Regions from separate parts of the Homo sapiens genome. Here region 1 is linked to region 2. Evidence: fine-mapped expression QTL. A gene starts in region 2. The other region holds a variant in brackets. All regions are shown on one strand. Distances are from middle to middle.

Region 1 (15,592 bases), 42 kb after region 2:
TTCTTGCAGGATGGAGGAAATGACAGCATTGCTAGGGTGGAGAGCTGGGATAGCTGGAACTCTCCAAATTCCATCCCCTCTTCCTGAGTTTTCCTCCATGGACTTGGTAAGAGAGAAAGAAGTTCCATTTTTGAGACCTGAAGGGCTCATGCCCCCAACAAACACACACACACCACACGTCTTCAAGTCAGTTCCTCCTTGCAGAGCTTCATGTCAGTGTTGTTGGCCTCTCTGAGCCACAATTTCTCTCGCTCCCTTTTCATCCTCTTTTTACATACTCACTTCCCAACTTGGATCCCCCAAGAGGACCCAGTGTAATCTATCTTTTGGACCTGGGATCTCTCATTGTCAAATGGGAAGGGAGGACCTTTTCCCTGACTTTGGATGGAGTGGGGAAGCTTAGGATGGACAAGAGGTCACCTAAGACCAGAAAGACCAGAGGCAGAGTCCAGCCAAGAACTGCTACAGACAGTTCAGGACTCCTGGAACTCCAGGAGGGTGAAGAGGGTAGGAAGGTGGCCTGGAAAAGGGAGAAGGGGCCTGAAGGTGAATTTAGGGGGAGCCCCCAGATCTCTATTTATATGAGCCTAATTTTAGGGTGGTTGTAAGTTTAGGTATACTGGCTAACACAAACATGTCCCAGGGCAGAGATGGACAAAAGACCAGGAAGGAGAACGGAGATGAAACAGAAGAGTAAGACTTGTTTCCCAAAGCTCACTGAAGCTGTGAACTCTGACCCACATAGGAGAGTGGCCTGGGGACTTTTCACGGGATGACATCCTGTTTTTGACCACAGCCCAATGCCCTTGGCAGAGGACAGGAGCAGTTGTACCCCCTCTACACACACCAGAACCCAGTACCCCAAGACTTACATGCTACCTCCCTCCCAGGATGAGCCAGGGAGTCTTTACCCAAAACTCTTCTCCTGCTCCTCCCCTATACCCTCAGCAACCTCTAGACTGGGGATTCCCAGTCTCTTCATTAACTTTTCAGCAATTATCCCATAAAGGCCCTGACAGGTCCTTCCTCTCCCCATTTCAGAGATGAGAACACTGAGGCCCTGAAGAGGTAAAAGCTCAGCAGAAAGCCACCCATCAAGCAGGAGAGAATAGAGTATTAGAGGGCTTAGGAGGCAGAGCTGGACCTCTTTCTTCAATCTTAGGCAAAATTGGGAGGACAGGGCCAGCACAACCCCCTGGGGGAACCCAGGCATCAGGACTGAGGCAGGCTCCAGGGAGGGGCTTCCCTGTCCCTCCCCACCTTCCAGCACAGAAAATCAGAGTGGGGAGGGGAAACAAGCTGAGGAGACCACACAGGTGGAGTAAATAATGTTAATACGGGAGCATTATCACTAGGGCATTTCCTCATGGATAAATGTCTCAAATACCAAAGGATGCCTCCAAATTATAGTTAATTACAGAGTTGATTTGCATAAATTATAAGGTGAGCATACAAATTCTTTCAATCGGTTCCATATGCTTAGGTAGCAGGTCCAGTCCAAAAGATGGGAGAATCTTGGGGTTGGGGGGGAGTTTGGGAGAGGAAAAAGACCCAGCCCTCAACCTGGACCTTCAGGCCCACACACCTTCCCCTGGCCTCTGGATCAGTCAGGGGTGTGTTTAGACCCTGCCTGGACAGCAATGAACACAGCCAGCACCCTACCTGGCAGGAGACCCCCTTTCCTCCTCTATTCGCACCTCCAGACAATGTGTTTTCCTAACACCAGTGATGGGCGGGAGAGAGGAGCTGGGAAAGCTATGGGTGGGTGCCATGCGGCCTGTAGCTTGGAGTGGGGGGCGGGACTGCAGAGTCCTGGCTTCTGGCCTTTGGAGCCAGAAGAGGGGAGGGGGCTGAGGAAGCTGAAGACCCAGTGGGGCTGAGGGTAGATTCAATTCAAGCCCCTCTCTCTTGATCTCAGCTCCCCTACCCGCCCCCTGGCCCCCACACGAGCCACCTCCCCCAACTCCAGCAGCTCACTCCCAGCGCCAGCCCTCGGATCTCAGGTTTGATGTTGCCGCTGCCTGCACCTTCCAGGTGGCTCCTCAGCGGCTCAGACTCCCAGACTTTCGTCTCCAGTGCCTGGGCCTATTTCCTCTGCCCTCGCCTCTCGGTCTCCCACCTCCTCCTCCCGCCCCTAGCTGCTAAGACTCTACTTCCTTCTTCAGCTCTCTAATTTGTTCCTCCCTCCGGCCCCCATCCTCAGCCCCAGAGGCCCATCTCCTACTGTTCTTCCTTCCATCTTTCTCCTCCTTGCCCAGCCTCCCTCCCCTAAAGATCCCAGGGCTCCCCTACACTCAGCTGTCAACTTCCCTTTTCCCACCCACCAACTGCTTTCTGCTTTCCAAGCTACTCTTCCTCCCACCCCTAAGCTTGCTTACCTCACTGTCCCCCAAATCCTTACTGCATGTAGTTCTCTGATTTTTCTCAATATACCTGCTCCAAAGGCAGACACTACTGGATTCGCTTAGGCTGCAAGGGGGAGGCTGGGCTAAGTAAGATCTCCCAAGTGTGTGCAGGTGAGAGTTTACCTTCATCTTTTTATCTTAGGGCAGGGGAAGATGATGAAGAAAGAGCCTAAAATGGTGTCTGGTACTTAGCAAGTATCTTACAAATATTTGTTTAATTGACAAATGAGGTGGAAATGGGCACTGGTCTGTGGAAATTCTGTGGAAGTGTCAACTTGCTGACAAAAATTACTACTTGTCTCGATTAATTTTCAGGTCTCCTATGCCACTTCTGTACCCACCAACCTAAGCTTTCCTGCACCTAATTAATGACAGATGAAGCATCTTTTTTTTTTTTTTTTTTTTTTTTTTTGAGACAGTCTCCCTCTATCACCCAGACTGGAGTGCAGTGGCGCCATCTTGGCTCACTGCAACCTCAGCCTCCTGGGTTCAAGTGATTCTCATGCCTCAACCTCCCAAGTAACCGGGATTACAGGCACCCACCATCATGCCTGGCTAATTTTTGTATTTTTGGTAGAGACGGAGTTTCACCACGTTGACCAGTCTCCTCTAGAACTCCTGGCCTCAGGTGATCCACCTGCCTCAGCCTCCCAAAGGGCTGGGATTACAGGCGTGAGATATGATGCCTGGCCTAATCATCCTAAAGTGCCACTCCATCTTGGCACTTCCCATCTCCAACACATCCAGTGGCTCCACAGTGCTAAATGTGTCATCCAGGACCCTCCCACTTCACCTACGCAGTCTTCTCTCCCGCTGGTCCTCATACAAACCCTACAGCCCAGCTCAGCCCAATGGATTTAATGTTCACCAAACATGTCCAGCCTTCCTACCTTTGTCGAAATCATTTCCACCCCTGCCAGCCATTCTTGCCTCTGGAAAGCACATTATCCTTCAAGCTCCTGGCTGGCACATAGGCGGCTTTCTCTGCAAAGGCTTCTCTTATCCGCACATCACTGGCATGCTCCTCTGAACTTCCTCAGCACTTATTGCCTCATGCTCTGCTTCCATGGGCTTGTTTTCTTATCTTCTCTACTGGTTGAATCCTTGAGGGCAAGAACTCTATCCTTTCATGCCACAGGGTCCTCAGGCCAGAGCCTTTCTTTGAGAAAGGGATGGATAAGCCACAGCTGAGTGAATTAGAGAAAGGGCTCCCCAGAATCCAAGCTTCCAGAAGCTCCTCAGCTTGGGGAGGGCATCAGTGAAGGCAGAAGCCTGGGTCGGGGAACTTAAAACCCAAAGATCCATGAAGTAAGCACACACAGCTTCCTACTGTCCCCCTGGCTGGCCCTGGTTGTGTGATGGAAGTGGAAGGACCCACAGAGTATCTGGGACATGCAGGGTTGGAGTGAGGGCTGAGGGAGAGTGAAGCTCCCCACCCTGTCACCCTGCTTGGAACAAGGAATTGGAGGTTTGGGGCAAAGGAGCAAGGGCGGTAAGTGGAGCCGAGAGAAAAGGCTGGCTGGGTGTCAGTCACGGAGACAGGCAGAGGCAGAAAAAGCAGAATCCCCTCAGTCCCTCGGTAGGAATTTAAACTTCTTACAAGGGTGGAAAGATCCCAGTCATGTCGTGCCTCAGCTCAAAAACATTCAATAGCCCCCCATTACCTACAGGAGAAAATCTACACTCTTAGGCCTAGGATTGAAGCCCCATTCCCCATCTGGCCTCAGCCTCCCTTTCCAGCCACATCCCTTCCCACTCCCCAGGAGGCTTCTACTCCATCCTTACCGTCCACATATTTTCACGCCCCACACTGTTCCATGTGTGAAATGCTCTTCCCCATTTCTCTGCCTGATGAGCTCCTATGGATCTTTTAAATCCCAACTCCTATGTCCCCATGCTCTCTAAAGCCTTCTCCAGTTTTTCAAGTTGTACTTTTCTGTGCTCCCATAGTTCTAAAATATAGAGCGTTTAATATTCTCTGATGGGTAATACAATTAGCTGTGTGCATGTGTAAGATCGTGAGTTCCTTGAGGGACTGGAAATTTCTGTTCATCTTTGAATCTCCCCCAGCATCTTATACAGCAACTAGTACTGAGTGTGCAATAAATATATGTTGCACTGGATTGAATTTACACCCTTTGCAGAGGACAAGGGGCTGCCAGGTCAGAGGTTGGTGAGTTCTCTATAAATCCCCTTGTCGGCTGGGTGCAATGGCCCATGCCTGTAACCCCAGCACTTTGGGAGGCGGAGGCGGGAGGATTACTTGAGGCCAGGAGTTGCAAACCAGCCTGGGCAACATAGTAAGACTCCGACTCTACAAAAAAAAAAAAAAAGTTAAAATAAATAAATAAATAAATAAATAAATAAATCCCTTTTGTCACATCACTGAGAGTTGGCCTCATGGCCTTCAAGACACTGCATCAAAAACATGCCCTGACCCTTCCTCTTTCACCCTGACACTGTGCCCAGTGCCCTGTCAGGAATCCAAGGTCAGGGGTGGCAGACAAGGCTCCATAAGAGGCCCAGTATCCTGTGTCCTGGTCAGCTGGGCACGGCCACCAACCCGCAGCCAGGGTCATCCAGAGAACCTCCAGCAGGATCCCACGAGAGGGGAATTAGAGAGGAGGCTGGGTATCAGGACCTGGCAGGCGGAATCAGGCGGGTAGGGGGAAGGAGGGCAGTGCCCTGGAAAGGGGGCCGGTCTCATTGTTGTGGTCTGTCTGGGAGATTCCTCCCCTTTTTAATTTGCTTCCTGATTGAGGGGTTGGCTCTGACTGCCCAGCTCCCCCGTCATTATCTGCTGCCGGTGGCTCAGGTGCTGGCGAGCCTGGTGTGGCCCGTAGGTTATTACCTGGAGCTCTGGGGGTGGCAGAGGCTGCCCCTCTGGCCGGGGTGGGGGCCTGTCTGGAATCTGCCCTGATCCTACCACCCACAGGGCAGCCATCTTGATGCCCAGCATAGTGGACACATTCACTTGGTTCCAAGAGTCAGCTGATCCCAGGCGGACTTCAATGTCTAGAGGAAGCTTCATCTTTCAAGTGCCTAGAGTATGGATTCAAGAACCTGAAGGCCAGGCGCAGTGGCTTATGCCTGTAATCCCAGCACTTTGGGAAGCCGAGGTGGGTGGATCACTTGAGGTCAGGAGTTCGAGACCAGCCTGGCCAACATGGTGAAAACCCATCTCTACCAAAAATACAAAAATTAGCCAGGCATGGCGGTGCGCGCCTGTAGTCCCAGCTACTTGGGAAGCTGAGGCACAAGAATCGCTTGAACCCAGGAGGCAGAGGTTGCAGTGAGCCAAGATCATGCCACTGCACTCCAGCCTGGGTCTCACTCAGACAGAGTGAGACTCCGTCTGGAAAAAAAAACAAAACCTGAGGCAGCCAGCCACGGTGGCTCACACCTATAATCCTGGCACTTTAGGAGGCCAAAGTGGGCAGACTGCTTAAGCCCAGGGATTCAAGACCAGCTTGGGCAACATAGCCAGACCCCATTTCTACAAAAAGTACAAAAATTAGTTGGGCATGGTGAGGGTGCCTGTAGTCCCAGCTACTTGGGAGGCTGAGGTAGGAGGATCACCTGAGCCCAGGAGGTCAAGGCTGCAGTGAGCTATGATCACACCACTGCATTCCAGCCTGGGAGACAGAATGAGACCCTGTCTCAGAAAAAAAAAAAAAAAGCCTGGCATGGTGGTGGCTCATGCCTGTAATCCCAGCTGTTTGAGAGGCCAAGATGAGTGGATCACCGGAGGTCAGGAGTTCGAGACCAGCCTGGCCAACGTGGTGAAACTCCATCTCTATGAAATACAAAAATTAGCCAGGTCTGGTGGCGGGTGCCTATAATCCCAGCAACTTGGGAGGCTGAGGCAGAAGAATTGCTTGAACCTGGGAGGCAGAGGTTGCAATGAACTGAGATCGTGCCACTGCCCTCCAGGCTGGGTGACAGAGCAAGACTAAGTCTCAAAAAAAAAAAAAAAAAAATTGGGTGTGGTGGCACACGCCTGTAGTCCAAGCTACTTGGGAGGCTGAGGCACGAGAATCGTTTGAACCTGGGAAGTGAAGGTTGCAGTGAACTGAGATCGCAACACTGCACTCCAGCCTGGGCCACAGAGCGAGACTTTGTCTCAAAAAAAAAAAAAAAAAAAAAAGGTAAAGCACCCAGAGTTAGATCCATTTCTCAAAGGCTGTGAAAGGAGTTAAGTCATTCATTAAGAAGTGATTCCAAGCCATGTGCGGATGAGAAAGAGACAGCAGTGAAGCTAGGGGATTCTCCTGCTGAATCCTTCCTATTCTGTGGTGTTCAGAAAACCAAGATTCGTAGAGGGGAAAAAGTGGCATTGATCTATGAACCTGGGACAACTAGAACCCAGCATGTGGGACTTCCTGTTGTGTAGGTGCAGAGGAGACTCAGCCTCCTGTAGTGCCTGGAGCATTGGACTTCAGACCTCTGCTCAGTGCCTGTGGGCGCAGCCTAGAACCCTGGCAGAGAGGGCACCCTTGCCTCTTCCATCTCTGAGTCCCCAAAGTTCTGGCCCTTTGCATTATCCTTGATTGAGCCTGTGAGCTTCAAGGACAGGAGATAATATAAAGATAAACAGGAAGTGCCAAATTAGAGACACGAAGTTTGTTGTTTTAGAGGGCGCCCAGCGCCAAGCAGCGGTGCCAGGTTGGCAGTCCTGGAGCCTGGTGTCTGCCTGCTCTCTGCACAGCCAGCTGCCCCTTGGACCACAGCAGGAGGGCCCTCTGGGCAGGAAAGGAGGATGGGATGGAGCATGGCAGGGAATGGGTTAAGCAAGTCATTCTTTTTTACCCACCAGCTGAACATTTGCAGTGTCACCTCTGATTCATTCTGGGCATTTAGTCACTCATTCCACAGATATTTTTAAGCTCCTTCCCTGTTCCAGGCATGTGCTTGGTACAGCCTCTTCCCCCAAAGCTAACATCCTCACTAGAATGTAAGCTTCATGGAGGCAGGGGGTTTCGTTCATTGCACTACTCCCAGTGCTTGGAATGGTGCCTGGGACTCTATAAGTGCTTTGTAAGTTTGTTGAATAAGTTAATGGAAGGACGAATAGATGAAGGAAGGAAGGGAAGAAAGAAGGAAGGGAGGGAGGAAGGGGGCCCTTAAGTGGGCATAGGAGGGTCCCATGATTTTTCAGTCCACTGGTCCACTGGACTTCTTCTTCTTTTTTTTTTTTTTTTTTGAGACAGAGTTTCTCTCTTGTTGCCCAGGCTGGAGTGCAATGGCGCCATCTCCGCTCACTGCAACCTCTGCCTCCCGGGTCCAAGCAATTCTCTTGCCTCAGCCTCCCAAGTAGCTGGGATTACAGGCATGTGCCACCACGCCTAATTTTGTATTTTTTTTTTTTTTTTTTGAGATGGAGTCTCGCTCTGTCGCCCAGGCTGGAGTGCAGTGGCGCGATCTCGGCTCACTGCAAGCTCCGCCTCCTGGGTTCACGCCATTCTCCTGCCTCAGCCTCCCAAGTAGCTGGGACTACAGGTGCCCACCACCAAGCCCGGCTAATTTTTTGTATTTTTAGT[A/G]GAGATGGGGTTTCACCATGTTAGCCTGCCTCGGCCTCCCAAAGTGCTGGGATTACAGGCATGAGCTACCGCGCCTGGCTTTTTTTTTTTTTTTTTTTTTTAGTAGAGATGGGGTTTCACCATGTTGGTCAGGCTGGTCTCGAACTCCTGACCTCAGGTGATCCACTCACCTTGGCCTCCCAAAGTGCTGGGATTACAGGCGTGAGCCACCACGCCTGGCCTACACTGGACTTCTTAATGAGAGCATTGATTATCCACAAGTGCTGTCCTCTCCATTCCATTCTGTCCACCTCTGAATGAGTCTTTGAGTCTTTTTTCCTTTTTTTGTTTTTGTTTTTGTTTTTGTTTTTTGTTGTTTAAGAGACAAGATTTTACTCTATTTCCCAGGCTGGAGTGCAGTGGCGCCATCATAGCTTGCAGAAGCCTCTAACTCCTGGGCTCAAGCAATCCTCCTGACTCAGCCTTCCAAGTAGCTGGGACTACAGGTGCGCCACCACATCCAGCTAATTTTTAATTTTTTTTTTTTGTAGAGATGGGTGTCTCGCTGTGTTATCCAGGCTGATCTCAAACTCCTGGCTTCAAGTGATCCTCCCATATTGGCCTCCCAAAGTGCTGGGATTACAGGTGTGAGCCACGGCACCCTGCCGAATCTTTGAGTCTGGACACCAGTAGGTGGTCATGGTCCAGTTCCTTGCCCAGATGCCCACAGGGACTTCCAGCTTCCAGGCTGCAATCACAGAGAATGAAGAAGGAAGGCTGTTCGAGAAATATGGGCAGCTCTTACAGGAAAGCCCCCCAGCCTCTAACAGGCCCTCTCTGGGCACCGAAGGTGCCAGTGGTCTTCCAAGGCCCGGGATGTGCCCTGGACGTGATTGCTCTCCTGGGTCTTGTCTTGCTGCTCTTTGCCCCCGCCCTCCTCCTCTCTACCTGATGGTGCCAGGTAAGGCTTCAGGCATGGCAGAGGCTGAACTGAGAGCCACCCTACCTTGTTCCTGTGGCTCCATCCCCCTATCCACACCCAAGAGATGAGATCCTGGGGCAGTTGGCATCTGACAGCCTGGCATCGACTCATGCCAACAGCTTGGAAGCTGCAGTAATTAGAAGGGGAGAGGGAGAGAGGGGGAGAGAAGGAGAGCGAAAGCAAGCTCTAGAGAGAAACCTTCTCCTGCCTGCCGCAGGGCAAACTACTTCAAACGAATTCGTTTCGCTCTTGTGAAACTGAAGACAATTTCCTTTTCTGTCATAAAACAAATTATTGCTCATCAGGAGTGCTGGGCTAGTCTCTTTCCTAAGGGTGTGCTCTTGCTCTTGTGCAGGAGGAGGGGAAACATTAGGGGAGGGGACCCAGGGTGCAAAAGGGATTTCCGGGAGCCATCCTGAGGGGGAGTAGGAAGAGAAGCTTTGGATAGATTCATGCTCCTCTCAGGAGTGAAACGGCGCCGTGTCCCCCTTGTCAACCTCCCCGACTGACCAGGGAAAGTGTCCAAGAAGGTACCGCTTGGCTCCAACCACCAGGACCGAAAGAGCCTCTGAGAGGGTCCAACCCTCCTCCATCCTCCTGCCTCCAAGCCACCCTGGGGAAGGCTCCACCTCCCCCCTCAGGCACCTGTTCCTGCTGTTGAGGGGTGAGGACAGGAAAGGGAGGCCCAGAGAAGTTAAGAGACTTGCCAGAGATCACTCAGCAAATTAATTAATGGCAGATCCAGGATAAGAACCAGTGGGTTCTCTTCCAGGCCAGGATCGGAGGGTGCCTGGGGACTTTTGTTAGCACCTTTATGACACTGGGTTGCTCCAGTGAGCAAACAGCATCCAAATGCTGCTGCTATCCCTAGGGGCAAAGTCTAGAAAGAAGAGCTGGTGCAGTGGGTTCCCTCCATCCCCAGTCATCAGGCCCCCATGCTGCCCCAAACATACCATTTCACCTCTCCTGGTCTTCGCTTTGAAAAACTTCCAGGGGACCTCCCTTCAGACCCACAAGAGGAATGATGGGTAATTTTTCTCTCCCCACCCCATCTACCCCACTAAATGTTCATAGCTCTTCCTTTCTCTTCTCTACACTGATCACCAGGCCAGGGCTCAGGGGAGACATGCTTCATCTTTATGCTTCAGCTCTTACCAATTTTTCATCATCTCCCCTGATAATTGCCCTCCTCCTCTCCCTCACTTCTCCAAGCTCTGGTCTCATGGCTTTTCTGGGAATTGGGGGAAATATAAAGGTTCCTGTCCCTGAGGAGCACCTAACTGGGGTGGGAGGGGATACAGACCTGACATTCACAAGCACCCAGAAGAGAAGAGAAACGGGAAGACTCTGGCTGGAAAGAACGTGGGTATCAGGATGAGGAGAGGGAGGGCAGGGAAGAAAGGTGGAGGCAAGGCCAGGGAGGGGTCTCTGAGAGGGTTTCTTGGAGAATGAGGTCAAGGAAGATGTGAGGAGGGGTATGGAGTAGAAAATCCAAGCCACGGACTGCCTGGAGACAAGGAGGAAGATGGGCCCAGGTTGGGGGCCATGGTGATGCCTGGGAAGGGGCTGGGAGCCAGGAGATAGGGTTCAAATCCCTGCCAGAGATGACGCAGGCAAATGGGAGGGCCAAATACAAACAACCATTCCAGTGATGTGGAAACCTAGTTTTAAGCCAGGGTGAATGTAGAAATGTTTGGGGATTGGCTGCCGGACCGGAGTAGCCAGACAGCCACCGTGAACAAAGGCTCTGGGATCGCATCCGCGGCCTGATGGGAGATGGAGAAATCGCCTTGCCCACCCATCTTCCCCCAGGCACGCATGTTTCTTTCCCACCCAACCCGCTGATCGGCACTCTGGAAAGAGGGACCCACCACCTGCCAAGTTCCCGCTTGGCAACATCCCCAAATGTTCTCCCTTGTGTCCAATCACAATTCCTCTGGTGGCCATTGGAGGCTTGGCAAGGAGAGGGCAGTGGGGAGATGGAAAGCGACTGCCCCTCTGAAAGTGGCTGGGAGGGAGACAGGGAGGGGGAGGTGAGCAGAGGGCAGGGCCAGGAGAGGATCGTGTCCAGGCGAAGACTCCTGCTCATCGGACACGCCACGCTGGGAATCTGAGAATCTGTGGTGGGAATGGGCCGGGCTGGCAGGAACAAAGGATGAAAGCGAGGTTGTGCGGCCGGCTGGGACGTACACACCCATCGCTGACGTACTTCGGCGGCTGATGACCTCAGCCAGGCCGTCAGACCCCGTCTTATCGCGCTGCCCCAGTGAGGGTCCCCCTGCACCAGTCCCCAAACAGGGCCTGAGAGCATGAGATAAGTCGGTTAGATGCCAGAAGTACCTGCTGTCAGGAGGAGCTCAGGGAATGACATTTCCCAGAGACAGGCGGGGTCAGAAGAGGGGATGTGGGAGGGTGAAGAGAAGCAATGAGGCTTAGAGAGAGAGTGGAGAAACCATCATGTCAGTGACCCTGACTTGAGGATCCAGGGTCCTGGTTGTCAATTCTTCGTGTCTATCTAAGAATTCTGACAGTGGGAGGGCAGGGCCCTGGCTAGGCCTGAAATACCTCTAGAGGACTTGGGTTAGACACCAAAACTTATTTGCTTTTTGGTGGCAGGAACATTAAGAGACTGAGTGAAGAACCCGTAATGATCTCAGAAAGTGTGGAATCACGCCTCTTGTGCAAGGGTAGACCACCACTTGGCCACACAGTCAGTGGAGGCTCCGATCCTCCCACCCCCACCCCCATGGACCCACTCAGCTTCCTGGGCCTCCGTGGAAACCTGTTGCTGGCATTTCATCTGTTCCTTTGGACCAGGAGCGGAGTAAGGCACTGTGGTTATGGTGTAGCTCCCTCTCGCTTGCCCCATTCTGGGGAAGAAAATGGGCTCTTACTGTTTTTTCTCTCCCAGTTTTGAGGTGAGGAGCCTGGGAAGGAAGAATCTGTCTGAAGACTTCATCTGCCCTTCTAAAGATCTCACCCCCACTGGAAGCCTTTGGCAGATCCTCAAGCACAGCCACACTGCCTGTGTGTCCCCCAACCACCCCTCACAGGGAGATATAGTTCCTCCCGAACAGAGCATGACATGCAGCCACACACATAGAGCCTCCACCAGCATGCACATGCGCACACACATGCACACACGCCCTCACTCAGTCACACATCCTCTTAGGTCATCACTTACCCAGAGGTTCATCCAGACCCCAGTGCAGGCATACACTGTGGCCGCAGCAGCCCACAGTGACCACTGGAGCAGGCACACCCCACTCACTGCAGCACAGAGCCTCGCCATGCCAACAGGCCCCCAAACACTCCCGGGATCCCCTTCACCCAAGTGGTCCCTCACACACTCTCCACTCCCATTCGGGCAAGTGTGTGCAGTGAGCAAATACTATGATAATGAAGTGCAAAGATGGACCAACATGGTGCCTCCTGTACACATGTGTTTACAAGGTGGCGGGAGACTCAGTCACATGAGCAGAGTGTTGCAAAGCAGCACTCGAAGTGCTGGAAGAGGAAAAAGCATCAAGTACCATGGGGACGACCCAAGTCTTGGAAGCCACTTGCCTACACAGCCAGTGGGGGGCACTGAGCCTTCCCACTTTCATACGTGGGCAGCCAACCCAGAGCTGCCTACATCAGAGCCAAAGTGCTCCTGACCTCCACCAAGGGACAGAGCTTTCACACTCACGAGGCCCTCACCTACTCCCTAGTAGCCTCCTAATGCCAGCCAGACCCTCCTAACCCCGACCATCATGCATACGCATAGACCCATCTTCAAGCCCTCTGCTCTCACACACCCTCCTTCCAAGGAGCCAGGGCCACTTGTCACTAGAGAAGCCATAATTGGCAGGTGCTGAGGCTGCCACGGAGCTTTGGAACAGGCAGAGGGGAGGGAGGAGAAGGGTTCCTGAGGTAGGGGGCTTGGGAGCGGGATGGGGGAAGAAGGAGGGGGCTGGCTCCAGTGCCCTCTTCTCCGCTCTGCAGGTGTAATTAGCCCTGGCAGATGAAAGGGCGTCTTTGAAAGCAGGTGAGATCCTTGTCTGTCAGCAGGGCGCTCTGGGTGGCATCGGCAGCTTATCCTGAAACCACACACGGCACCAGAGCCGGGCTGTCTGAGTGCTGCCCAGGAGGCGGGGAGGCAGACCCCAGGGGCGTGAGCCCTTGACTCCCCACTCCCCCATATCTTGGCCCTGGGCTCCCTGCTTCTATGAGCAGGAGCTTCTCAGAACAGAGTCCTCCAGAGCCTGGCAGTGCCACTCCCAATAAACTAATGCCCCATCCTTTGGGCCTGAAGGGACAGGGTACTGCCTCCCCTCCCCTGCCAAGCTGGACAGGAGGCCAAGGACAATGGCCCTAGGCAGTCCTTTCATCCTGAGATCTCAAAGCACCATCTAATTAACCCCGCCCAGGTTGGGGACTTCCTCTGGAATCCCTTTGGAGGGGTGTGGTCTGGGACCAGCGATCTTAGCTTGGATAGGAGGACCAAGAGGGCAGGATCTCCCAGTCCTCATCCTGTTTGGGATCTGGGGAGTCTGGAGGTACAGCAAATTGAGGGTGCTAACACCAAACTCTGAAAAGGGGGCTGACAGGGATCTCAGGAGAGCCTGAGTTTGACACCCAAAGGGGGATAATCCTGATGCATCCTGTCCCTCCTATTGCAGTTGGGTTCAAACTCAAGCAAAGGACGAATCTCACGGACACTCAGAGTGAAAGAGGCTGGCTCTAAAGGCGTAAACACAGTGCATGATCTCACCTACTTGAAGGTCAAAAACAGCCAGAAAAACTAATCTACACTCTTTGGAGTCAGAATAGAGATTCCTTACTTTTGGGGGGTTTAATAACCTGAAGGTGGGATAATGGGTGCTTTGGGGTGTTGGTAACCTTCTGTTCCTTGAGCTGAGTGTTGGTTACCCAGGTATGTTCATTTTGTGAAAATTCACCCAGTTTTGTGCTTATGATTTATGTATGTTCTATATTTATAACACTTTTCTATATGCATTTCATAGTTCAATAAACATTTACATTAAACATTTTTACATATCAAGCCAATACTTTGTCTTATGATTCCTTTAAGGGGCTCTCACATTTGTCTCTTTCCTCAGTTGGAAGATCAAAGAGTTTGCTCCAGAATGAAGCCCTGGTGAGGCTAGATTCTCAGAGAATTTCTGGACTGTGTGTGTGTAGGGGGAAGAAAGACAGGAGGCTGTGCAGAGCCAACACATTGATACACCCTATTCCCTACCCCCATCCCCACTGCAATCCTCAGACACACTAACCTATTTCACTTTGCTAAAAACCAATGAATGCTTTGATGCCAAGGGAACCAATGAGATAACTGGGATCCCTGCTGTCCTCTGCCCTACCCCCACTATCTGCTCCTGAAATCTGTTCCCAGTCAGGGTCCTACCCTCTCCACCTCTCGTGGTCAGCTCTGTCCCTTTCATCTCCCTCCTCTGCTTCAGGGTCTAAAAGAGATAGCTTTGGAGGGGTGGAGAGTGTTTGTGAAGAAGCTGCTGGTCCCCACCTCATCAAATGACATCCCTGCTTCTTTCTCTCCACCCAGGAAAAAGGCAGGAGGCATTGATTTCCCCTCCTGCCACTGAGGGAGAGGGCTTTGAGCTGGACTTCCTGATAACTGGGGTGGTAAGAAGTCCTTGGAGGGGGTGAACAAAAGCCAGGATTATTTAAAGACTGACCTGTCTGGAGACAGGGAGAGATCAGATCAGTTTACGGGGTCCTAAGCTTGCTGGGTTTTCACTGCAAAGAACTTCACCACCCAAGCATGAACACATGGAGGTACTTGTCCTTGACATAGGGTATCCAGCTGGGAAGGGATCCTAAACATCCGGGTTTCCTAATTGGCACCCCAGAACCCCCAGCCACGCCAGAGAATGAAACTCTGCCGGTTTTGTGTGACTTCAGGAACATCCACCTCCTCCTGCGCTGAACTCAGTGATGTCCCACTGGCAACTTTCTCTCCACTGGTTTGATGGGCTCTATAACCTAGAGTCTGGGGTTCACCTTCCCTAGTTTTCTGGAAAATTCATACTCCCTGCCCCCAAACTCATCCTCCCTAATTAGCTCCCCTAAAATGTGCTGAGAAGAGGGATTCTTCTCTTCTGACCCTCCTTCTAGCAGGTGGAGTTCATAACCCTCGATCGAGTATTCCAGGGATTTTTGTTTTGTTCACTAATTGTATCATAAGCACCCAGAACAGTGTCTGGCACACAGTAGGCATTCCATAAATGTTTACTGGATGAATGAATGGTGCCCACACTTGGAAAGTTCCTCCAGAAGCCCATCCTATATCCCTATTACTATCATTTAAGCTTTCAGCTCTGGCCCTAGAAGAGAGGAGTCAGCTATCTGCCTGCATCTGTCATCATTTATTGAGCACCTACTGTGTGCAAACCATTGTGATATGTGACTGTCTGTTCATAACTTAAGAGTCTTGGCTCATACCAATACCTCTTACTATCTGTCCCCACTTCTCCCTCCAAGTCCAGTCTTCATTCAACCTCACTGGCCCATTTTCTTAAGAATTACTCAAGATTTAATAAGAATGAGAAGTTTGCTTTCTGTGATTATAATTGTTTGTTCTAGGTCTTCTTTCGTCTCCACTTAAGATAAGTGAAAACCTCTCCATTTCTCTTTTTGTCTCTGTGCCTCCAACTCTCTGCATA
Region 2 (8,000 bases):
TGGTTTACACTTCTCCCTCCAGGCCAACTTCACAGACCCTACTGCAGGAACCCTTTCCTAGAGCACACCCCTTCCCTGGCGCTACTCCTCAGGCCCCTGCCCTGTGTGGGCACTCAGTATCTGCTTTGTCACAACTCCTGTCCCTGCATCCACGTCTGTCTATGTGCCCAGGCAGACTCTTACTCCTCTGTAAGACTGGGACTCCCCTAGACAGGGCCCAGGTAGACTGGATCTCCTTGGAGGCAGAGGCTGTCTCATTAAACTGGGGCTCCCTGAGGCAGGGATGGAGGTAACATTTTCCCCTCCTAGACCTGCCAGCTTGGGGCCTACCCTTGGAGGTGCTGCGCCTAGGGCCCCTCACCATGAGAGCAGCGGTCCAGCCCATCACTGTCCCTCAGCCAGGAAGACACTTTCTCCCGCGGTCCAAGCCCAGGTAGGGCTGAGGCAGTAGCTGCTGTTGGAAGCTGGGCACCAGGAACCTGTGGGGTGAGCCCAGGGTCAGGAAGGATGATGCCCACCTCCCTGGGTCTCACAGTTCTCCATAGCCCTTGCCCCTGAATTGCCACATTACCTGCCCCCACCCCAGGGTCCACCTTACCTTCCGGTGAGCAGTACTGGGCAGTGAGCCACGGGGCATGTCCAGGCGGTGGGCTAGGCGGTGGGCACGCAGCTGCGCCACCCAGCTCTGGAATAGGTCCTGGGATTTGATCTGCAGAAGTGATGGAGAGGGGGAGGGCTATCTGAAGAGAGGGACCACTTTCCAAGAGCAAGAAGTCAGGGCTCTGGTCCCCAGACAAGCAGGGTCTCTTCTTACAGAGCCTGGTTTGTGCAAGGCTCACTTGCAGGGAGACAGAGCGCAAGGCGCCCAGGTGTCTGAGCCCTTAGCTCTGTGCCTGTCCATACAACAACCAAGAAGTGCAGGTTTGCCCTTGGCTGTTTTTACAGGATGGAAACTTACTTTTTGTCAAACTCAGAGACAGACCCTGAGTTCCACAGACCCTCAGCCCCTGCCCCTGTGTGTTCCAATGCCTCTGTCAGGTTGGGGGCCAACACACGTCCTGCCTCCCAGGGATGTCACCTTGAGGTGGTAGATGTTGTCTTCAGTGTCAAGGTCAATGCGCTGGGCCTTTTTGTTGATGGACATGACCGACAGCCGGACATCGATGGAGCCATGGAGCTTCCCCTTGGTGATCTGGGGGTGAAGTGTTGGTAGAGGGAGAGGGGACCTGTTTTAGGCTCTCAGAGCCATAGAGCCACCATCTCCCTGATGCCATTCTAGGCTCAAGGGCCAGGTGGCAGGTTCACCCTCATGTCCAAGTCACACTATCAGTAGAGACTTGTCAATCATCCTCCCATGTGCAGAACGCTCCCCTACGTCAAGTCACATCTTGGTCTCTAAGAAGTCACAGATCAAGAAAAACTATTCCCACCCTCAGGGGTCTGCAGGGTTGTGGAAGGCAACACCCTCCCAGAGAGATCCTGGGTACCCAGGCCTTCAGTTCCTTGTTCCCAGCCTGAGAATGGGACCAGGATGAGGGTGGTAAAGCCCCCATTTCTTGGGCACTTATTCTGCCCTGTCCAGAGAGCCTTGTACGTATGACCTCCCTTACCATGACAGCTCTGCACCTGGGGGATGGTGCTCTCCCATTAGAGGTGAGGAAGCTATGGCCCAGGGATGTAACTTGCCCGAGATCACACATTCAGCAAGTGGTGGACCTGGGATTCAGACCCTGCTCTGGTCGATTCCAGATACCCCATGCCTGCCCAGGGCATACTGGGGCCAGACTCCTCCCACAACCCCAAGCCACTGCCCGGGCTCACGTCTTGCCGGGTTGTTGCATAATGAAGGATCCCGTCCTCGAGCACAAAGTATCTCTGTGATGTTGCCCAGGAGTGACAGGACCCGGGAGGCCGAGAGGAAGGGCATGAGGGAGAAGGCAACCACACAAATTAGCTTTTCTTTTCCTTCTCATCATGCAAACACCATTGGACTGCCCAGCAGCTGCCCCCCATTCCCACCCCGCCCCCCATGTCTGGACCCTCCCTTTGCCTGCCCACCCTACCTTGTGCCAGCCCTTCAGAGGCCACTTCCTCTTCTTGAGCAGGTGACCTTCCTGCCTCTCAGGCATGACACCCTCTGTCCCCAGCCTGACCCGAGGCTCCTCCACCACCTCCCACAGCTCAGAGGCCTGCAGTCCAGGACAGAGGGAGGGGAGCACTGGTGAGACGTCCGCCTTGGCCCCTCCCTGTCTGGTTCCAGCTTGGCCCACCCACCACCGCTTTCCCACTCTCTGACCTGCTGAGCACTGCTGGGCTTTGAGGACTGAGCGCTCTCAGGCAGGAAGGGCGGGTCCCTCTCTTGGAAGTCCATGGAGAAGGGAGAGGCCACTCCCTGCTGGGGATGTAGAGCAGGGAGCAGGGTGGAAGGGGAAGGATGTCACCTGCTCCTGACGGGGTCCTTGAAGCAAGAGAAAGACCCCCTTAACGCAAACTCTGCTATCACCTTCCCCACCTCCAGCCCCTCCCACACCCTCTGAGATAAGGGCTCCCCAACATACCCTCTGCTCACCTGCCAAGCCTCTCCCAAGTCTGCCCCTCTGTCCCGACCCCACCCATTTTCACCTGATATGGACACTGCCCTGAGAGTGAACTAGCACACAGCAGACGGGCAGGTGCCCAGGGAAAACCACAAGACATATGCCCAGCCCCGCCTTGGGCACATACTCTGGGGCTCCAAGAAACATTCAGTGCTTTCTTTAGAGGCTTCCCTGGGAGTGCTCAGAGGTGAAGCAAGGGAGTGACAGAAGAGGCTCCAAGAAGAGACAGAGGGGTTCAGAGACTGGACAAGCGAGACCTCCTCAATCCAGCTGCCTCTGCCTTCAGGACCCCTCCACCCTGCCACCGTAGCTCAGAGACTTCTCTGCCATGATCTTGCAGAAAACTCCCCAGCCTCCCACCAATTAATCTCCATATTATCTAGTGCTTGGAGAAACTGAGGCCTGAGATAGCCCCCATTTTCCCATGTCTCCTCCCACCAAACATGCCCCTAGGATGCCCTTTTTGGACCCTCAGTACCCCCTAAAGCCTCACCATCCCCTGTCTACCCTCACAGTCCTTGGGGCTCTGAGAAGTGCCACCCACCCAGAGAGGGCAGGACATTGGGCTAAAGGAGATACTTCATGAGAGAAGAGGGGGCCCAGGACATGCCCAGGTCTGCACAGGTCCTGCAGCAGTGCCCACAGGCACCCTTGGCACTGGCCCTGGCCATCCTGGCTCCACCGGGAGATCAATAATGCATGAGGCTCTGCATGTGTGAGACGGGGGAGGGGACTGGAGGGGCGAGGCTGGTTTGAGGTGGGGGAAGCAGCCCAGATCTTCTAATGGAGCTAGCAAGCACCTGAGGAACTGAGGCCCAGAGGGGACAGGGATGTGGCAGGAACGGGTGCCCAGGAGGTTGGGGCAGAGGGACCCTTGCTGCAAGAGGCTGACCTGGGAGGAAACTCCTGCATTCAGCCATTGAAAGTTCTCAAACTCTTCCGGTGTTCAGGTATCTCTGGGCCCTTCTCCCGGCCCTGTGGGGATCCTGGCCCCTCACTGCTTGTGGGTAGAGGGGGAGGCTCTATCGGTAGGCAGGTGAAGGGTCTAGGTGAGCCAGGTGGGTGCCCCCTCTCCACCTCTATTCAGGAGCAGACCCACCAGCTTCAGGTGGGAGGAAGCTCTTCTCAGGAATGTCAGCTGCTGCCACGCAGCCCCCTTACCCCAGGGTCCATGGACGCCAGTACTCCTTGGCCCTTGCGCCGCTCTGCCTCTGAGTCACCGTCTCCGAGTCACCGGCTCCCTCCTCACCGCGCTGAGCAGTGGCAGCAGCTGCTGCAGGAACCAGGAAGGAAGGAGATGTCAGAGCCTCCCCTCTAGCCGGATCTCCCCACCTCCCTCTCCCCTGTCCCCTCCTCCCGCCAAGCTCCGGGCAGCCGCTCAGCTCTGCCCCCCTGCTCCCCGGAGGACTCAGGGCTGAGCAGACTGCCCTAGCATCGATGTGGCTTGGGAGTGGGGGCACAGTCCCTGCTGGGCATGGTTCCAGATAGATCAGAGGACTGGGGAACTGTTGGCTGTACGCCAGTGGTGATAAAGGATTTATTCAGACTAGCATGGCAGTGACCCTGTTAGTACCCAAGGCCAATTCCTAATTAACCCCCGCCCCCCGCCTCTCATTTTACATCTGAAAATAGACTGCAAAATTTGGAGCCAGCAAAAGTATCAGGTTGATGGTGGAGGGACAGATGCCCCCTCTGGGACCATAAGAGAGTGCCAAGAGCACAGTCAGCAGGGGCAGTCAAGCCAGGAAAGGGACAGCCAGCAGTCCCCACACTGAGGCCCTTCACTGGGGTGATGCCCCACTAGGTCAGGCCCCATGGAGATCTGAAAGTGCTTGTGTGTATGAAGACACCCCACAGCCTGCAGTCTCTGATCAGGAGCAGGCCTGGGGCAGTCACAGCTGCCGTTAAAAGGGCTGCAATGCTGGTCCCCTCCCTTCCCTTTACCCTTCTGCTGGAGTACTGTGCCCAGCTGCTCAATTCTAATGAAAAATCGGCTCTTAACAAAGATCTAAAATTCATTCAAATGAATGTGGCATAGACCTACAGTTTCAAGCGCAGCTAAGTTTTCTGGAAAGAAGTAGGTGGGGCCTCAGGTGAAGGATGTGATTCAAGTTTCTTCTCTGACCCCAAAAGTGACATGGGCCACTTATCCCTTCCACTTCATCCTCACCGAGCTTGGTTTACGTTTCAGGGTCTCACATATCTCTCGGGAACACCCACTGTCTTGCCTTTATTCAGAGCCTCAGTGCTGCTCCAGCCACCCCAGGAGGAGGGTGTTGTTAGCACCTGGCAGGGTTCTGGGAGGGACAGGAGCACTGGGCAGCACTGACCAGACAAGCTCTGGCATCCAGGAGCCTCAAGGGCCTTTTAAGCCACTTCCCAGTGATTGAACATCCCTGGGCATACAGCACAGGATGAGGCACTGGGGGAAGCTGGTCCTGGCCCAGGCCACAAAAGAGCTGCTGCAGGTCATCCCTGCCAGACAGTGCCTGTCCAAGACTAAGGAAGCGGTGGCATTGCTTCAAGTCCGAGAAGGAATGTTGAACAGCCACCTTCCCCGGGTCACCCCTGCATCCACCCAGAATGTGCTCCAGTCAAGGATGATGGTGGACTCTGAGTTAAGCATCCCGTCTCCTTTATTAGGAATTTCTGGTTCATGAAGACTTGCATGAGGCCTCCTACCCTAGAGCTCTCAGAATTCCCCATTAATAGAGAATCCTAGTTTTCCCGCAGGCCTTTTGTCCAGAACCACCAGAGACACGTTAGCTAGTGGGTACAGCTGTCAGCTGCCTTTAATAGGGCAAGCATGCGCGGGATGCCATTTGTGGGAACAGGTATAGGGGAAGAGGATTTTCCTAGGAAGGGAAGCAAGAGTGAGGAAAGTCAGATGACAGAGAAGCCCCTGAGAGTAAGTTTAGAGGGAGGACAACCGTGTAAACCACAAAATAAAGGAAGTAGAATATATTTCATTTTATTATAAAGCAGTGCTCCCAAACTTTTCACAGCGTACACCTCGAGGGTGGAGAACTAACATCCAAGCACACCTGGATGGTGGATGGGACCCACTTCTGGGTAACCTGATGAGGAAGCTCTAGTGAAGAAATTCAGGACGCGGTCTTCAGAGCAGAGGGCTTGGTTCAAGTCCCTGTTCTGCCACTTACTAACTGCATGACCTTGAGCAAGCCACTTAATTTCTCTGCTCCTTCTCTGTGAAATGGGTACAATGTGGTCAGCAGTAAAGGAACTAATACATGTACAGCACTCAGCACAAAGCCTGGCACACAGCAGGCTCTCACCAGGTGCCATTCTCAGCACAACTGCTTGGTTGAGCTACTGTGGCAGTGGCAGGTTGTGCCCCAAGGGGGTGGGCTCAGGAGCCCGTGCAGCAAGAGGCAGTGACCAAGGAGGCAGGGGACAATAGCCCTATCTTTTCAGGATCTCTGCCTTGGACCTGGAGAATGGAGAGACTTTGCTCCTATCACGTCCCAAGTTGGGAAAACTAAGGACGAAGCCGGTGACTGACATCTGAAATGGAATCCTCTGCATCTCCAAGTGGCCCTATACCTGACAATATCATTACTAGTGAAAACCAAGTGACAAACACACTCCCCGACCCCAAGTTCTTCCACATGTCCCATTGAGGAGAGCACAGCCAATAACGCAGAGTGTATTTATGCGCAGGGCTGGCTAAACAGGCTGGCTACGAGTCCGGAACAGTGTCAGGATCTGGCTTCCCATTGGCCGACATGACAGAATCCTTCTCGCGTTGCTCTCTGATGTACTGGTCCAACAGGGTGGTCAGCTGGAGGGGCTGGTGCTGGAGCAGGGAGTGGGTCTGGGCTGTGAGGCAGGTGAGGCCTCCTACAAGCTCCCCCTGCACCAGGGGCAGGCTGGGGAGCTTGGAGTAGTTGATAAAGCCCTGCCTGCTGAGGATGGTGTCATCAATGCAGCCACCTGGAAGAACACAGGGTCAGTTAGGCTCCTTGCAGATTGCCTTTCTTCTCTGAAAACAATATTCTGACCCTAGTAACTTGCTCTCCATTGCCCTTCTCAAAATCCTGCCTTCCCCAGGACCTGGGTTCCACTGTGCCCCACACCACACCCACTCTGCTTGGGATCGATCCCTACTTCTTCACTCTTCCCTCAGAAAACTCTTAATATATCCACCTGGCCCTGACCCCTATTAAGTCAGTGTTTCCTAAACTTCCTTGTAAATAAGAATCAGGCAGCCAGGTGTGGTGGCTCATGCCTGTAATCCCAGCACTTTGGGAGGCTGAGGCAGGCAGATCACCTGAGGTCAGGAGTTCAAGACCAGCCTGGCCAACATGGAGAAACCCCGTCTCTACTAAAAATACAAAAATTAGCCAGGCATGGTGGCGAGCGCCTGTAATCCAAGCCACTCGGGAGGCTGAGGCAGGAGAATCGTTTGAACCCGGGAGGTAGAGGTTACAGTAAGCTGAGATCGTGCCATTGCACTCCAGCCTGGGTGACAAGAGCAAAACTTCGTCTCAAAAAAAAAAAAAAAAAAAAGAATCAGGATGAGGTTGGGTACGGTGGCTCAAGCCTGTAATCCCAGCACTTTGGGAGACCAAGGTCGGTGGATCACCTGAGGTCAGGAGTTTGAGATCAACCTGGCCAACATGGTGAAACCCCGTTTCTACTAAAAATACAAAAATTAGCCAGGCATGGTGGCAAGCACCTGTAATCCCAGCTACTTGGGAGGCTGAGGCAAGAGAATCGCTTAAACCTGGGAGGCGGAGGTTGCAGTGAGCTGAGATCACGCCATTGCACTCCAGCCTGGGCAACAACTGCGAAACTCCGTCTCAAAAAAACAAAGAATCAGGCTGGGTGCAGTGGAAAACGCCTGTAATCCCAACACTTCAGGAGGCCAAGGTGGCATAATTGCTTGAAACTAGCAGTTCAAGACAAGCCTGGGCAACATGGTGAATACAAATACAAAAAATACAAAAATTAGCTGGACATGGTGGCATGCGCCTGTAGTCCCAGCTACTTAGGAAGTTAAGGTGGGAGGATGGATTAAGCCAAGGAGGTCCAGGCTGCTGTGAGCCATGACCGGACCACTGCACTCCAGCCTGGGCAATGGGAGTGAGACCCTGAATCATGGAATGGAGGGAAGTAACGGGGAACTATTGTTTAATGGGTGTAGAGTTTCACTGTTAGAAGACAAAACGTTCTGGAGATGGATGGTGGTGATGTTGCATAGCATTATGAATGTACTTAACACGGAACTGTACATTTAAAATGGTTAAGATGGTAAATTTTGTGTGTATTTTACAATTAAAAAATTGAATAAATATCATGGAGTGTTGAGGGGGTATTAAAATCACAGATTCACCAGGAGCGGTGGCTCATGCCTGTAACCCCAGCACTTTGGGAGGCTGA

Which allele goes with the higher level. Positions count from the first base shown, and alleles are read on the strand shown. Sizes are in standard deviations (SD) of each study's normalised expression.
As copies of A replace G in region 1, the expression in cerebellum of the gene that starts at base 3,887 in region 2 goes down (moderate effect, 0.43 SD a copy in GTEx).

The links. PIP is the estimated chance that this variant, and not a neighbour inherited with it, causes the effect.
Region 1: its variant is fine-mapped to the expression of OSBPL7 in cerebellum (GTEx, PIP 0.99).

The regions. Positions count from the first base shown.
Region 1 is chr17:47,855,978-47,871,569 of GRCh38, forward strand. It overlaps a transcript of SP6 not described here. Among named protein-coding and RNA genes, the nearest start is that of SP6, 13 kb to the left of the region's middle. RefSeq lists enhancers at 10,536-11,046, 10,692-11,891 and a cis regulatory region at 10,772-11,574. The variant A/G (reference allele first, on the strand shown) is at 7,946.
Region 2 is chr17:47,817,908-47,825,907 of GRCh38, forward strand. OSBPL7 (oxysterol binding protein like 7) reads right to left here and starts at 3,887. Exons shown (of 23, transcript NM_145798.3): 1 at 3,759-3,887; 2 at 2,297-2,458; 3 at 2,064-2,189; 4 at 1,822-1,875; 5 at 1,079-1,192; 6 at 599-709; 7 at 362-479. The coding sequence starts at 2,371. It overlaps MRPL10 (mitochondrial ribosomal protein L10), which reads right to left. Exons shown (of 5, transcript NM_145255.4): 5 at 5,365-6,551. The coding sequence ends at 6,298. RefSeq lists a silencer at 3,850-4,065 and an enhancer at 4,176-4,345.